Homo sapiens: one gene and its partners. The protein of the gene in region 3 interacts with the protein of the main gene of each other region in a pairwise test. Each region holds a gene or a part of one and is shown on either strand. Other genes may lie near its edges. The genes, in order: RARG, RARB and MAP6.

Region 1 (7,124 bases), on a different chromosome or scaffold from region 3:
TCTCTCTCTCTTTCTTTCTCCTCCTTTCTCTTTCTTCCTTTTTCTTTCTTCTTTCTTTCTCTTTCTTTTCTTTCTCTCTCTTTCTTTCTTTTTTTTGTGGGGTTCGGGTGACTGGATTCAGAAATGGGTATTTGGGGTTGGGGGAGGAGAAGGGAGTTTACACTGGGTTGGAAAGAGCAGTGCATTCCCTCTCCATCCCTGCTTCAAGCCCCCTAGTCAGCCTTGCCACCCCGAGGTTTCCTCGCCATCCACAAGTCAGGCCTTTTCCCAGCCCCGGCAGCCCCCCGCCCCTCCCCCGCGCCCGCCATCCCTCGCCTACTCTGGCACCCCTTCCTGCCCTTTATTCTTCCAACAGGCGCCCCACTCCTGCAGCACCCCAGTGCGCCCCCCACCCGGTACAACAGATTCTTAGAAAAGCGCGCCCCGCCCTGGCCCAGCCACAGCCGCCTGGCGGGGGAAGGGCCGGGCCGGGCGCCGCTCCCGCTCCGCGGCGCTGCCCGTGTGAGCGGCGCTGACAGAGCCGGCTGGGCAGGCAGGCCGGGCGGCCCGGCGGCTGAGGGCGGGGCGCGGGGGAGGGGGGGATTTCCGGGAGTCGCCGCTGCTGGCGCTGTCCGGGGCCAGGGTCCCCCCATTCGGCCCTGCCGGGCCAGGGCAAACTTCTGACGTGGCCAGCCCCCCGCCCACCTCACCCCCTTCTCCGCCGGGCGAGGGCGCTCAGTGCCGGAAGGGGCAACCCAGGGAACAGTGTTGCGGCCTTGGAGAGCTGAGGGGCACTAACCGAAGGGAGGGCAGTTATGCCTAGGCTAGAGGGTATTTAAAGACCCTGAGAACAGTCAGTGACCAGAAGCGCCCCTATTGCCGAGGGAGCCCTTGGCAGTGAGAAACTGGAGGAGGGGAGTTGGCCATCAGGGGCAGATTCATCGAGGCGCAGTTGGCACGGCAGGCACAGCTTATGGGGTAGTTTTGTGCTCTAAAAGTGAAGTTATGTTCGAAGAAGGAGCATCGAGAGAGACGGTCGAGGCGCTTAGGGGGCGTCAGTTGCGGGATAAGGCTTCGGGGACTCGGAGGGAGGCGGCCCGGGCCGCGGCGGAGGGCGGACTGCTCGGGCTAGGAGGGGTAGACTCTGGCTGCGCTGGAGGGGGCGGGGGGACTCCGCGGCAGCGCTGAAGACGGCCTGGGCGGGGTGGGGCGGGGCCGGGTCAGGAGGAGGTGAGCGCGCTCGGCCACCCGCCCCGAGGGGGGTTCCCAGAGAGTTCACGGCGGGAGCGCGCTCCGGCCCTAGGACCGCGGGTGGGGAGACGGGAAGGAAGGAGGAGGCAGCGCGCGCCGAGCCGCAGGAATGCACTTTTCGGCCCTGAAGCGGGCGCGCGGAGGGCGAGGGCGGAGCCAGGCCTGGGAATGAGAGGGGTGGAGGTAGTGCAGGTCCCGAGCCTCAGGAGAGCAGCTGCGCGCGGGGACCTCCACGTTCCCCTCTCCCCAGTCATCCTTAACACCCCTGTATTGACTAGTGTGAAAAAGGGAGAGTTTGGGGAGAGGGAAAACTCTGAAAGGAAATGCTTATGCTTGGTTCCTCCTCTCCTTCTTCCAACCCCGACCTGGGCACGCGCCTCAGTGCAAATGCATGCAAAGCCTATGAGCTGTGGAGAGTATGCCTGCAAGCATTCTCCCGAGCAAGGTGTGTTTGCACAAACGTGTGTGCACCTATGATTTTATATGCGTGCTCACATGTATGTTCACTCTTGCATATTTGCAAATTCTTGGTGCCTGATAAGATAAATGCATGCACGGATGTGTGTCTAAGCAAGCGCGCGCGCCGCGGAGCGAGTGTACGTATGTGTATGTGTGCGCTCCACTCTCAGCTTTGCTCATCTCGGTGCCCGGCCCCCTTCGCTCTCCAAGCCCCACCCCCCACCCCTCCAGGCTTCGCTTTTAAAAAAGGTCTCCCCAGTGCTAGCTGCCGAAGCACCCAGATAAGAGCTGGACGGAGGCTAAAGCGGCAGCCCCAGCTTCGCGCCCCGCCCAGTCCCTTTCCCCTGCTGGGGATCCCCCCTCTTCCCCGCCCACCCCTTACCCGCATGCAGCCCAGCGCCCTATGCTAGCCCTCCCCCTCCCCCCCTGCTGGAGCGGGGCGCCGCCGGGGGAGGAGGGGGAATCGGCTGCGGGTCCTTGGTGTTTCCAGCACCCAGTTTCCCTTCAAGCCGGGTCGCGATGTACGACTGTATGGAAACGTTTGCCCCGGGTCCGCGACGGCTGTACGGGGCGGCCGGGCCCGGGGCCGGCTTGCTGCGCAGAGCCACCGGCGGCTCCTGTTTCGCCGGACTTGAATCTTTTGCCTGGCCGCAACCCGCCAGCCTGCAATGTAGGTACCGGAGTCCGGGGCTGGGGTGTAGGGTGCAGGAGAGGGTGGGATTTACTCTTTCCGTGTGTAAAGAGTGGAACTGAGGTGCAAGGAGGAGCTTCTGGCCCTTTCTATGTAAGGTACTGGCCCTTTAAACGTGGGGGCCTCAGCGTCTCCTTTGCGTGTGTGCAGTAGTGTTTGGAGTGTGTGTGGTTTTTATGGTGGGTGTTTAGCTCGAACCTGTGGTTGATGCCACTCCAGAGTTCCTGGGGATAGGGAGAGACCGAGGTGTGTGGGTAGTTTGCGCCTTCACGTCCGTGGCCCTGGAAGGATATGACACTCAGGACCGTGGGTGGCGTTTGTAAAGCCCATGTGGGAAGCTGGCAGTGTTAAAAATATCGTTTGCAGAGCGTGTGAATCCCTGGAGTGTGCAGCGCCTTGCCTAGGTGGTGTGGGTGTGGGAGCAAGGGTCTCTCCACCAGTGTCGCCTGCGACAGCTGCCAGGTCCACATGGCCTGTGAGGGGATGTTTGTGGCGTGAGGCCGGGAGGGCGTGTGCCCCTGCGTGGCTGCGGGGGCGGTTTTGGAAAGTGCTGTGTTCGAGAGTGCATCCTGTGTGTTCTCATGCCGGGTGGAAAAGGTTGTGCACACAAGAGGGAGAAGGCTGAGTTTTGTACGCCACCCCCATATAAAAAAAGAAATGTTTGGAAACGTGTATGCGGTTATATGCAGAGATTACTTTTTCCTATGGCTCCAACACACAACAACTTCAGCAGGAAGCGAAAAGTTTAAAGCAAAGTCTGTGTGTGTGGTGGGGGGTGGCCTGAAGTTGACAGCGGCAGGGCGAGCACCATTACTGGGTCCCCAAATATCTATCTTCCCCCTCCGTGAAATGGGAGATGCCAGGCCTGGGGCCCTGGAACCCCTTTCCAGAGCAGTAATAAAAAGCTGGGGACTGAGAGGCAGTAAAAATGAAGTCCAGATGAGAGGCGGCTTTGAAGCTTGGGCCGCAGTGCCTGGCGGGGGTGGGGTGTGGGGAGGGGCCAGGAGCGCAGCCTGGAACACCCCCCAAATTTACCCTGGGCTGGGATGTGCTCGCTGCCTGGGTGCGGACGGCCCGGGGATGAGGGGCTTGGGGGCACGCTGGGAAGGGTGGGAAGGGGCGGGCAGCGGGCGGGGCGGCGGGCGCTGGGGGAGTGCGCACGCCAGGTCACCAAGCCCCCGCCAACGCGCCTCGCTCCTTGGCACCAAGCAGTGCTGTTTACAAGTTCGGATTTTTTTTTTTGGTTCCAGAGCAGAGCTGCTCAAATTTAACAACTGGGAAGCTGGAAGAGGGAGATGGCAAACCAGGAGACCGGACTTGACTTTACTTTTGGGTGGGGTGGGGGAAGAATTTAAAAGTGTGTCATTTAAAGAACCGAGAAAGCATGGAACTATTGCTTTGCACCAAATCCCTGTGAATTCTTAACTTTCCTCTCATTGCCCAATAGGATGGGGAGTTGGGGTATGTTATATGTTGTGGGGGTGCTGAGATGGAAAGAATCTTTCAGGAAGGGCTTCTGGGGGCTGGGCAGAGACCCTGTCTTTTTTCAGGCCTATGGAAGAAGCCCTTTGGGCTTGACTGGCCCTAGGTTTTTGAGTTTTAATTGGGACCAATAATTTTGGCCTCTGGGATCCTGGTGGACACACAAAGCCAGCTTCAGGCCTGCCCGCACACACTTTCAGAGGGAAGGGTGCTTGGGGGGTGGAGGTGGGCTGGATGTGTGTGTGTGTGTGCCTGTTTGGAGGCTTTGGTGTCCTGGTGCTGCGTTGGCAGGCTGGGGTGTTTGTCTGGTGGTAGGGCTGTTCCCTTGTGTGGCCAAGTGCTGGCTGTTGTGTGTCAGCCTTGTGACTGGTACATCTACCTCCACGGTGTAGCTGGAGTGAGTGTGTCTCTATTCTGGCTGTGTGTCTGTGCCAGAATCCAGTGAGGGTTCTAGGATCCCATTGTAATATGCCTGCTTTGGTGCCTTATGTGTTGTTAACCTGTGAGTGTGTGTGTCTCCAAGGAGGTGTGTGCTAGATTGTGAGTCCAGGCTGCTCAGCTCTGAGCCTCGCAGCTGGGAGCGTTTACAGCCGGTTATAAAGAGTTTGTTTGAAGCTCCGCGCAGCCTGGTCAGGAATTTCCTCAATTTCAGCAATTTGGGCTTTAAAAGGAGAAAACCCCAGAGCCCACCCCCATCCTCCCCAGCAGGGGCCCCTGCCTAACCCAGGAGCTGCATCCCAATGGTGGGGTCTAAGCCCGAGTCTGGGGAGGGGATCTGATTGGAGTAGACCCAGTTAGCTTTCTGGGGCCTTGACCTCACAGATTGACCTCGGAGCCACTAGGCTGCACTTTAGGGTTCAGGGGGTGGGGATGTGACAGTATCACTTAGACAGGAAAAGTTGCCCCCGGGCCTGTCTCCCTAAGGCCCCCAGTCTTATAATTGGCTGGCACTGCCCCATGCCAGTCTGACCGCACCCAGGCCCTTGCGCAAGAGAGGAAATGAGGCAGCGCTCTGCGGGCAGGGAGGGCGTCAGTGCCAGAGTGAGCACCACCCCACGCACAGGCCTTGGGCAGAACACGTGCCCTTGGAGGACACAGTGGTGGGTCTGAGGAGTGAGGAGAGGTTGGGAAAGGCGTTCCAGCCCTCCTCACATCTCTCAGCACCAGCCCCTCCTGGAGCCCCCATCCCTAGTCTTGAATAGACTCCAGGCACCCTTCTTTCCCCCCTCTCCTCTCTCCTTTTTCTTTGGGTAATCTCACTCTGGCAGGATTCTTATGCTAATTGATTGTATGTGTGTTGGGGGTGGGTAGGGCTTCCCTCCTGTGGGGTGGGTGGAGCTAGCGTGGAACCCTGGCATCCTGGGCATTCCTTCCGCCCTTCTGGCTGCGTTGGGGCGGGCTTCTGACCAGGTGGGCTGCAGAGGGTTAGAAGGGAGAAGGTGTTCATGAGGTGGGTGCGTGGGACACACCTTAGGGAGGGTCTTAGGAATTTTTTTGCATTAACTTGGGCCCTCCAGGTTTGGGCAACAGGTCCTACAGGTTGAATAATTTACAAATTTTCCGAGCCTCTGAAGACCAACCACACGCGCGCGCGCGCGCGCGCGCACACACACACACACACACACTTACCCAGCAGCCTTTTGAACAGAGCAGAGCATGTCCTCCCCATACTGTGGGGCTGAGACCCCTTTTGAGCTGCAATTGGGTATTTTCAGAGTGAAGACATAAGCTCAGAGAGGGTCCAGAAACAGGTTCCCTCCCCCATCAGTCCTGTTTACCTACTGTCACCTGACTTCTCCAGTTTGCTACACCTCCAACGGCTTCCAGACCTGAGAAACTGAGCAAACACCTCAGCCTCTGCTTCCCCAGCTTCTCTGACTCACAGCCACTTGGATCTGCTGGTGGTGTGGCACTGAGCTGGTCACTTCCCCTCTCGTGGCCTCAGTTTCTTCAGGCGTGAACCAAGGCTGTGGTGCATCCTCTCACTCACTCCCCTGAGACCTTTGCCCCATTTGCTCCACTGTCTCTGATGGTTATTCAGGGGTAGTGTGAGAGAGATAAGCCTGAGGAGTTATCCCCCCTGTACTACTGGAAAGGAAATGAGGTCCTGGTTTACCTGCTAAGCATCCCAGCAGGTCATTTGGCCAGTAGCAGCTACAGGAAGCCTGTCATTGCCTACCTGCCCCCAGAGTTATTGCCCCACAGGGAGGACAGTGGGAAGTAGACTACCTGACAAAGATATACCAAAGAGACAGAGAGTGACTAGAGAGCTCAGAGCTGCAGGGCTTTAACTCTTCTACCCACCTCCTGGATAGTTAGGGAAACAGGCCCAGAGAAGTCAATTTCCGGAATGGCCTTGGTCTGGAATTTGGAGGATTAAACATGTCATATAGGATGAGGGCTGGCATTCTTGTGAACAAGTTGGTTAGACTGTGGAGGGTAGAGGGTGAACTAGGGTCACAACAAGCTGTGGTAATAGTGGTCATTAAGAGGATTCTGACAGTGCTTACTGCTGGAACTAGTGCACTGTGGTAGTGATGGCTGTCACCAGTGGGCCAAGGAACAAATGCACATGGGGTGTGTGTGATGAGGAAGCCTGGAGGTCTGTGGGGTCCTTCTCCCCTGACCCTCACATCACTGCTTCCCTCCCAGCGGTGGAGACACAGAGCACCAGCTCAGAGGAGATGGTGCCCAGCTCGCCCTCGCCCCCTCCGCCTCCTCGGGTCTACAAGCCATGCTTCGTGTGCAATGACAAGTCCTCTGGCTACCACTATGGGGTCAGCTCTTGTGAAGGCTGCAAGGTGTGTACGTGGTGGGAGTGGGCAGACGGGGGATCCAGTTACCCTAGTAAGATGAGAGACCAGGCACACAGATGCTGTGTCTGAGCAGCACTGCTTTGCACATAGGTGGTTAATAGATTAGGTCAGGCTTGGGGCAACCTGCAAGGCCAGTGAGAGGCTGGTACTCCCAGCATTGTGCTTCAGAGGCCCTCTCTCTTTCCCTCAACTCCAGGGCTTCTTTCGCCGAAGCATCCAGAAGAACATGGTGTACACGTGTCACCGCGACAAAAACTGTATCATCAACAAGGTGACCAGGAATCGCTGCCAGTACTGCCGGCTACAGAAGTGCTTCGAAGTGGGCATGTCCAAGGAAGGTAGGCTGCCATCCTTGGCTTGGGCAGGAGCACTTCGGTCCTACCCTATGGCTGTGGCCCTCTTTCCTCTGGCCACTCCCACTTCCCTGACCTCTGAGACTTGGCCTG
Region 2 (7,124 bases), on a different chromosome or scaffold from region 3:
AGCAGCATAAGCAGCCTGGCAGCTTGTTAGAAATGCCCCTAGGCCATGCCTGCTGCACCAGAACCTGCACTGTAACGAGTTCACCAGGTGCTTCAGATGCACGCTGAGTTTTGAAAAGTACTGCTCAAGGTTCTACCTCTGCTTCCAGGTGAGCCAAAGTCTCTGAGCTCAGCCAGGAGACTTGTCTGTTTAAGGTGGGTGCCAGCCCTTCAGAAGCTGGTGCCACCCAACTGTGTAGTCTCATTTTCATCTGAGAAGCCACCTAGGTTTGTGCTGGCCCCAGATTCCATGGGCGCCCCTCTGGGCCTGCTCCTGGTCACCATTATTGTGTTACAGATACCACCAACATCCTAGCGCACTACACCCCATGCTCACCAAGAACTGCTCCAAAGCCCCGCCGCTCACTGTTTTTTTTTTTTCTTTCTGGTATCACTATTTTGTCTTTTGATCTTCAGGACCTCCCATGCTATCATTTTTCTAGAACACCATTCACCAAGCCAGCAAGTGCTACAATATTTGGATTTTGTTTTTAAAGTATGTTTACCATAGCATTGTAGGTGAGCAACCTAAGCTTTTTAAAGAGGCCAGAACAACATTCTAGTTGTATTAATTCATCAAATATCTACTGAGTGTCTATTACATGCCACAAGTTAGAAATATACATCAGTGAACATAATACATGCAAAAACCACTTGGAAAAATTAAAGCACCTCATGACCCCTCCACTGGCACAACCTAGACCAGCCAACATACACCTCCTACCTTTTTATCTCACTTCTCTTTTTCCTGCCTCTCTTTATTTCCAATCTCAGTGAAAGGCCATTCCTAGTGGAACGCTGGGAAGCAGAGGGGGAACATTCACTCAACTGGGCATGGGGCATGCCTACCCCAAACTTTTCTAGGCCCTGGCTTGGGGGTTTTGTACATGTCCTCTCACAGAAGGCAAACCTTGGCCCAGGGGATGGCCTCTTTATCTTGGTTGGATTTCACAGATGGATTGGGGTTTTTAAAAGATCAGGCCCCGTCCCCCTGGGTCCCTCCGTACAGAGGTCCGTCATGACCCATGTAACGCTTCACTGGCTTTACTTGTTTCCTTCACCAGATCAAAGTCTCTGAGAGCAGCACTGAATAGTTCATGTTGCCAGGGCTTAGAACACAGCCTGTCGTATAGCAAATACTCAGTTAATGCATCTAGAGTGAATGCATGTGTGCATGACTGCAGTGAGGCGGCACTCAGCCTACTCACTGATTGCCCACGCCCAAAGGCTACCTCACAGAAAGAAGTGGCTACTACATAGCCCCAGCTGGCTAGCATGCAAGCCCCTGCCAGGCCCAGTGCAAAGTGTGTGTGTGTGTGTGTGTGTGTGTGTGTGTGTGTGTGTCTGCACACATGCACGTACAAGGTTTCCACACTCCCAGCAGCCTGGGGCAGGAGTATCTCTTACCGTGGTGTATTTACCCAGCTGGCAGAGTGAAGGGAAAGTTTCCTGGTGAGCTTTTCGGATCTTCTCTGTGAGATCGTCCAACTCAGCTGTCATTTCATAGCTCTCTGTGCATTCTTGCTTCGAAGTCTCCTTCTTTTTCTTGTTCCTGTCATTCCTGACAGCTGGAAACGAGAGAGAAGGCACATCAGGGGTCGCTGAAGGCTGGGCCTGTGCTCCTGAGCTGGGAGGTTCCACCTCCCAAGGCTGCCTTAAGCTCATTTGATATTTGGGACAGAAACAGTGGGAAGAGGTGGTAATAACACACCTCCCTGGAAAAGGGATTTGGCAGCCGCGGGACCCCGGCAGAGAGCTAGGTTTGTCTTTCTGTATATGCATGTGCCCGTCAGTTGTTTGGAGAGCTTGGGCTCACCCAGGAGGCTCAGAGTCTTGGCTTGTTGTGAGAGAACTTTTTCTGTGGACTGGATCTCTTGAAGAGAGAAGGATTTTTCCAAGAGCTTTACCCTCAAATGGGATGCCCTGAGTGACATTGTAAGGGAAGGGTCAGGTCTCTGAACAAAGCCCCGTTACTTCATAATTAGTATTTCCTAGCTACACATTTTGGTGTCTTTGCTTTTTAGTTTTCTGAATTAAGTGACAGGCACTTTTGAAGAAACTCATCTGAGAGGAGATAAGGATGATGGTTTTTGTCCCTTCGTGTTTTTCTGCTTTCTAAACTTTCTGTATGAACCATATTATCTGTTTTGGAATATAAAATTACTTAAAAATAATAATTGATACAGTATGAAATCTTCAGCCTGGAAAACCATTCATTCCCTTATTCGCTGGTAGCCACTTGACTCCACGTTGTGTCTGGAACACTGGACCCACAGCAGGTGTGTGTCCTTTCCCTCTGCATGCTCCGAGCCAAGCACGGTGCCAGGCACAAAGTCAGGGCCCAGGACACAGTGCTATGGAAGCCCGTGCTTCCTCCTGCAGCACAGACCTCTGGGATGACTTCAAATCCGAGTGTAACTCAAAGCTCTAGCCCCTGGCTAGGATCTCGCGAGGAAAGAAACTGAAACCCAGGGAGGCAGACAGGCGAAACAGACCATGCCACCCCCTCCAGGGAGTCCATGTTCTCTGGGGCCCAGCGGGTGCCAGGCTGGATGCTGCCTGGCTGTGCATGCCACCACTGTGACCTGGGAATCTGCACTGCAAAATGACCCAGGGCATAATCTGATCTGCCCTAAGAGGATCTGGCCTGAGTTGCCTCCCTAAGAGCACACGGGTGATTTGAGAACTGGCAGTTCCCTGGGTCCACACCATGAGAATACCCATATTTGGGGTAGGAGCTGAGGGCAGAGTAAGACAATAGCAGGAGGAGAGAGGAAGTGGTGAAAGGAAAGAGCAAGGGGTGAGAAGGGGGAAGAAAGGAAAAAAGGGAGGTGAGTCCTACTACAAAGTCAGTGTCTGTACGAGCCACTCCTACCTAACCAGGAGGGAGGGCAGCTGGGGAGACCAGGAACATTTTTTTGAGTCCCTTGAACATGGTATCACGGTATCTCACTTGATCCTTTTATCAGGTAGGCAAGTTTAAACCCATTTTACAGATGAAGAAACTGAGTCTTGGAGAAGCTAAGAAATATGCTCAAGTTCACGTGGTTGAGAAGTTCCTTCCTCACTTGGACTCACTTACTTATTCCTAAGGAAACCAACAGGTCTGAAGAGAACACCCTTCTAGACAGTTTCCTTCCCCCAGGACTCTGAAATGACACTGCTCATTGGCTCAGAAAATTTCTAGATCACTGGTGAAATGAGTGGGAAGTGCAGCCTCAGCTGTATTCTTTCCCAGTGCAGACTGGCCCCTCGAGACCTCTGTGACCCGATCCCTCCCAGCCGGCGCAGGACGCTGGGTGAGAGTGGGTATCATGGTTCAAAGCAGAGAGAATGCAAAGAAGCCGGCGGGCAAAGGAGACACAATGAGGGGGAAAGGGGTCATGCAGGGTGGCAGAGGCGGCATGGTGGCTCTCCGTGAGGATGGAGTCTGGGCTGCTGAGGGGAGGGAATGCCTGAAGGCTTGTGTGTGAGTGCGCAGGATCTCAGGTGATCAGACCCCCCTCTTTTCCTCGGCCTCTGCCAATGGCCTTCCTTAGCTAGTGAAAAAGTCAAATCTAAGCAGGGAGGGTCCTTCTGAAACAGAGCCCCGAGGAAGAGTACTCGGCAGTTTTTCTCAAAGTTATACGCAGAGGTACCATGTGACGCAGCAATTCCTCTCCTAGGTGTACACCCAAGAGAACTGAAAATATGTGTCTATGCAAAACTTGTCCATGAATGTTCATGACAGTGTGACTCACGGCAGTTGAAAAGTGGAAAGAACCCAAATGTTCATCACCCGATGACGGGGAAGTGGAATCTAGGACGTCCTTATGGTGGAATATTATTTGTCATAGAAAGGAATGAATTATGGATGCATACTACAACACAGATGAAGCTTTCACACATACGCCTTAAAGAAGCCAGTCGCAAAAGGCCACACATTGTGTGATTCTAAATTATATGGATGTCCAGAACAGGCCAATCCAAAGACAAAAAGTAGACTCGTGGCTGTCAGGTACGGGGGCAAGTTGGTGGGGAGGGAGGATCGGGAGTGCTAACGGGTTCAGGGTTTTGTTTTTTAGGAGATGAAAATGTTCTGGACTTACTGGTGAAGGCTGCACAACTTAGTGGATCCACTACGCACCGCTGAATGGTACAGTTTAAAATGATGAATGTTATGCTACGTGAATTATATCACAAAACAACACCAACAAAAAACCCAGAGCCCTGTGGGAGGTGACACATCGCTAAATACCAGGAACTGTTTGAGTCGATTCTGAAGCTGAGATGACACCTACAGCTACATTAAAACACAGCAGCAGCCTCACTACCCTTTAGTGATTGTGTGGCAAGGGCCACTGGGCATCAGCAGGTGAAGAATCCTAGCTCGCGAAATCCCCACAGTAAGCCAGGTGAGGTGGGCCTTATGACCCCATTTCTACACTCAAGGAACTTGAGGCCCAACAATACCATGTTTGAAAATAGTCAACCCAATGTGCAGAAAGAGAAACCACAAAACAAACTAACAACCCACAGAAGGAGTCCCCATAATCCCATCCACAGGGAAGTCTGCAGGACCTGTGTCTGCTCCTAAGCATTCTGCTTCACTGTCCCCATCCACCACCAGGGGCCTGGAAAACTCAGACGAGCAAACCCAGCTCTAGAGGGTTACCAGGAGAGAGGAGACACTGTGAGCTGTCACCATGAAGTAACTGAACCAAGCAAGAAAGGGAGGGGTGAGGTCCTGTGGGAAGGGGCCCTGGGTGAGCTGCAGCTGGGCACCAAGTTGGGCATCTCTGTTGGGTTGTGCAGTGATCACACACGCCGTTTGCAAAATCACAACTGTGAAGCCAGAGCACCATTTTCTGTGCTTTGGGCCCAATTTGGAGCAGCCTTTGCAGCTCACTCGAAGGGGAGCAGTGTGTAACCTCAGGCTACTTTCCACACTCCTTTTGTCCCCTACGTGAAGTCCCACCACCACTGTCTATGTGAATAAAGGACTCCTGGGATTATCACAAATTCTTCCACACCCACAAAATGCAGGGACAACCCCTCTGGTGATGATGCCCCAATTACATACAGCTTCATAAGTTGACGGACAAATTTTCTAAACACGTGGCTTCAGCAGCTGCTTCCCTCAATGGTTTTAAACTCTAGAAGAACGCAGACGCAGTGTTTGAGAAGGGCTGCCAAGAACCACCAGAATCATGGAGGTGACACAGTGCACAAGAAGCCACGGGGGCCTAGGGATGGTAGCTTTGTCCAAGTTCTTGGGACTATTGGTCCCTTTGAGGCCTCGTGGTCAGTGGCTCCTGGGGCAGTGCAGGGACTCGTTCCCCTGGAGGCCAGCAGTGGGAGGCAAGGGCGATACAAGTACTGCAGGGGAAGTCAGGAGATCTGGAACTAGTGCTAGCTCCACCACTTACCACCTGGGGTCAACTCCAGAGGAGACAGCTCCTTTCAGAGCCTCCCCCGAGATGGCAGTAGCACCTGCATGGAGACACACAGATGGTGGGCTTGGTGGGAAGGAGGTAGACTACTGTAAAGGCCTATGTGGGTTAGTTATGCAGGAAGAATGTAAGGCCCTTCCGTGGGGGAAATGGATGACCTAAACACCAAGGACTTGTGGGGATTACTGTGGGGCCTGTGGCTGTCAGTGGCAGAGGAGACTGATATGAAAAATGGTGCTTGGAGAAGCCATCGCAGTGGCACCAAATGAGTGGGTGGATTCATTTGTTCCTTCATTGTTTTGTTCATTCATTCATTCAATGAATATTTATTGAGTATCTACTATGTGCCATCGCAAAACAGGATGGTTGTTGCTACCATGGAGCAAAAACTTATGGTAGCAGACAGACATTCATCATACAATAAAACAGTGACAGTAATAATAATAATAATAGAATATTGGCATCACTATTATTACATGTACTGCAATTAATATACGAGAGTATTATTTACCACAATACTGAAAGTGTTCATTACAACTATCATAAAGCCTTCTATTCATGGTAGGCCATTCAATCCTTACAACAACCTAATAGAGTAGATATCACTATTATACCCATTTTGCAGATGAGAAAGTGGAGGCACAGGAAGGTGAGTACCCTGCCTGAGGCCATGCATCCTGTGAGTGATACAGTCAGGATCAGAACTTAGGAAACCCACTGTGCTCCGCTGCGTCTGAGTCTACCCCATGTACACACAGTCCACAGCGTAGTGAGTACAATGAAGGATGCTACAGGGAGCTGTGCCTGTGTATTACTGGGTGTGGCAGGGGGATCCTACTGGTCCTAGATTAGGAAGCTAACGCTGGGGAATTGGGAGGGTAAATTGAGGGATGCTATGGGATGGTGGGTGGGGAGATGACTCTCTTCTCTGGGAGCGTGGGGTGTGCATCTGATGCTCAGCTCCAAGGCTGCCTGGGATGTTTGATGGTGGACCTCTTCTTTCACTCTGATTGCGACTGACTGGTATATGCACTCATATACCTATGCCAGACCTGGGAGTTTGACAAGCTGCTTTCAGGTACGGTGCACCTCTGGGAGGGAATGGAGAGGCAAAGAGAGGAGCAAACACTGTCAAGCCTGCATCAAAGCCCTCCCCTCCAAGTCTGTGAATATCTGAAAGGCAAGGGCCACATGTTACTTGTCTCTATGTCCCCAGGGCTTAATACAAGATCCGACCCACAGATGGGGGCCTCAAAACTGTTTTGCAAATGATAAGGTAGACATATAACTAAATGTGGTGTTCTGTCCACTGTCAGGGCCTATATGTGGCAATACAGAGTTCACCTGAGCCTCTTTCTTCCAGAACTTAAAGGTCTCACTATCATGTTGGGGTCTGCGGGGGAATCACTAACTGCTCTCCACCCCTACAGTAGTAGCCAGAAGGTTGATGAAGCAGGTGGGGCATTCAGGGGGTCACAGATGTGATTTATACACCTGATAGAACCCGGCCTGATGTTTGCAAAGCGCTTCTTGGATGAAAGGTGCTCCATAAAATATCAAGTATTCTCCTTGTGAGGGGCTAAGTGCTACAAATCAGATTTGGTGGCATAAAAGTAACATATTTATGATCCACTATCATATTGCAAATGAAATG
Region 3 (2,745 bases):
ACCTCAGGTGATCCACCCACCTAAGCCTCCCGAAGTGCTGGGATTACAGGCGTGAGCCACTGTGCCTGGCTCTAGGTATATTCTTTAGAAGCTCTCAGTTGAGCTGTCATGGATATTGAATGAGGATTAGCAGGTGTTAGGTTATACAGTGTCCTGAGACTTATGATCAGAGCCTGGTTTCCTCAAGAAGTTTGACCCCTGGATGAGCTTTAAGGCTGAGCTCTTGGCAAACAACTGTCATCCAGAATTCCCCTGTGCCAGGTGGGTCCCTGCTCCTGTTTCATCTGCAGGCTTCAACTCAGCTACCCAGGGCTCAGCCTGCTGGGATTTGGCACCTCTTGTGAGGCTGTCATGGTATCTGACCCTTGCCTTATCCTGCCCACCTCCGTGATGGGGTCCTGTTTCCATCTAGCATCGCCTACCCACTCCCATCTCATGCTGACAACTCACAGGAACTGGTGCTTCTCAGACCCCTCTGGTCCAGACGGGTGAATGCAGAGCCTGACAGGCCCACCTATACACATGTATGCACCCCTGCCCAACAGAGACAGAGAGAAACATTGCTGAGCCAGAGGGACCATTTTTATTAGATTCCAGCAAGACTACTGTACATGTTTCATGCAGATTAAATATGTGTCTTCACTGCCCCTGGGAGGGGAGCACTCTCACTGTCAGCTCCTTCATTGGTGTGTCAAGGGGTGAGTGTCAAGGGGAGCTCTCAATGTATTCCGTATGGGGGGCAGTTGGGATCATGACTCGGGGTAGAGGTGAGACAGTAGGTAGCTGAGGGTCCCTGGGACCTTGAGTCTTCAGAGGTTCAGGGACTGCAGGACCTTGGTCCTTTGCTGGTACTGGCACCAGAGGATCTTGATCCTTCAGAGGCACTGGGACTATAGGAACTTGATTCTTCAGAGGTTCAGGGACTATACGACCTTGATTCTTTGGAGGCTGTAGGACTGTGGGGCCTTGATCCTTAACTAGTACTGGGAGAATGGGGTCTTGATTCTTCACGGACTCGGGGACCACAGGACCTTGATTCTTTACAGGTGCCACAACTGCAGAATCGTGAACCTTTGCATGCTCTGGGACTACAACATCTTGATCCTTGACTGGCCCTGAGACCACTAAACCTTGATTCTTTACAGGCTCAGAGACCATGGAACCTTGATTCTTTATGGGTGCTGTGGCCATGGCACTTTCATCCTTCGGATGCTCTGGGACCATGGGATCTTGATCCTTGATAGGTGCTGAGACCATGGGACCTTCATCCTTGACAGGTGCTGGGACTATGGGACCTTCACCCTTGACAGGTGCTGGGACTATGGGACCTTGATCCTTGACAGGTGCTGAGACCATGGGACCTTGATCCTTGACAGATGCTGAGACCATGGGACCTTCATCCTTGACAGGTGCTGGGACCATAGGAGCTTGATTCTTCACAGGCTCAGGAATCCTAGGACCTTGATCCTTTAGAGACTCTGGTACCACAGAGCCTTGATCCTTAACTTTTGCTGGAACCATAGGACTTTGATTCTTTGGAGGAACTGGGACCGAGGGACCTTGGTCCTTGACTGGTGCTGAGATAACAGGGCTTTCATTCTTTAAAGGCTCAGGGACCGTGTGATCTTGATCCTTGACTGGTAATGGGATCATGGGACCTAGATCCTTTGGAGGCCCTGGGACCACAGAACCTTGCTTCTTCAGAGGCTCTTGCACCATAGGACCTTGACCTTTCAGAAGGCCTGGGACCACAGAACCTTGATCCTTGTCTGGCTCTGTGGCTACAGGACCTTGAGTCTTACTTGAATCACTGACGGGTTGAGCCAGGCTCCTGCAAAGGAGAGAGAGGTGATCACTGTGAGAGTAGAGCTCAGGCAGGGACAGGGCAGAGTACAGATTGCCTAATAAGTCTTGGCCTAGTGGAGCCTGGGCCGGGCAGCTCTTGCTGGAGAGCCAGGAGAATATGATTTCTGTGTTCTTAGTACAGAATGTGGGCGGGGGTGAGGGAGGGGGGTGAGGTGAAGGCTCAGGAATCAGTCATTCAATGTGCTTGCCAATTGATTATAACCTGCACGTGGCACAGGGGGTGGCACGCTGGTGACAATGGCAGTACTGTAGCTGGACTCGGAGTCATCCAGTAGGCATCCCAGCAGCCCGTCCACCCCACATTCCATCCAGGTCCCTACTTTTTCTTCTAGGATCGTTGGGCCCATCCTGGGAGCCCCATCTCAGCTGCCCACCAGATGCCCCCACAGGCCAGGGTGCTCTTTTCTTGTTCTCAGGGCCTTCAAAGTTCTTTTGCCTCCCTGACTCCCTGACCCCCTTGTTAAGTGCTGGCTGCAAGAAGGGGCAAGGGGTCCATGGCATACCAGGAAAGGAAGCAGTGGGAATGCCCCTCTCTCCCTCTCCTGCAAGGGGAAAAGTATTTTATCACTGACATTGTATAGAATGAGCAGCATATAGTGATAATAAAAAGCAGGCCAGCTATTAGTTTTTTGTTATTTGTTTTTGTAGAGACGGGGCCTCACTATGTCACCTAGGCTGTTCTCCAGCTCCTGACCTCAAGTGATCCTCCCACCTCAGCCTCCTGAATAGCTGGACTACAGGCAGCTTTTAGCTTTATTGCTTTAAATTCTCCATAGACAGTGCGCCCTGTGATTGCATGCACCACTCCCACTACCCCCAACCTTTGCTAGGTGACTCAATGGGACTCCGCTTTCAGGTAGGGATGAGGCCCTGATCCCC

What was found.
Region 1: the proteins of MAP6 (region 3) and RARG interact in a two-hybrid assay, tested with the Homo sapiens proteins (one study listed by BioGRID).
Region 2: the proteins of MAP6 (region 3) and RARB interact in a two-hybrid assay, tested with the Homo sapiens proteins (one study listed by BioGRID).

What each region holds. Positions count from the first base shown.
Region 1 is NC_000012.12:53,215,185-53,222,308, reverse strand, and holds part of RARG (retinoic acid receptor gamma), read left to right. Parts: intron 1-1,946; exon of another isoform or gene 1,947-2,092; coding exon of another isoform or gene 2,093-2,359; intron 2,360-6,514; coding exon 6,515-6,663; intron 6,664-6,874; coding exon 6,875-7,016; intron 7,017-7,124.
Region 2 is NC_000003.12:25,564,240-25,571,363, reverse strand, and holds part of RARB (retinoic acid receptor beta), read right to left. Parts: intron 1,607-7,124; coding exon 1,446-1,606; intron 1-1,445. UniProt on the Homo sapiens protein: Receptor for retinoic acid. Retinoic acid receptors bind as heterodimers to their target response elements in response to their ligands, all-trans or 9-cis retinoic acid, and regulate gene expression in various biological processes.
Region 3 is NC_000011.10:75,586,354-75,589,098, forward strand, and holds the end of MAP6 (microtubule-associated protein 6), read right to left. Parts: intron 1,832-2,745; coding exon 706-1,831; 3' UTR 565-705; downstream 1-564. UniProt on the Homo sapiens protein: Involved in microtubule stabilization in many cell types, including neuronal cells. Specifically has microtubule cold stabilizing activity.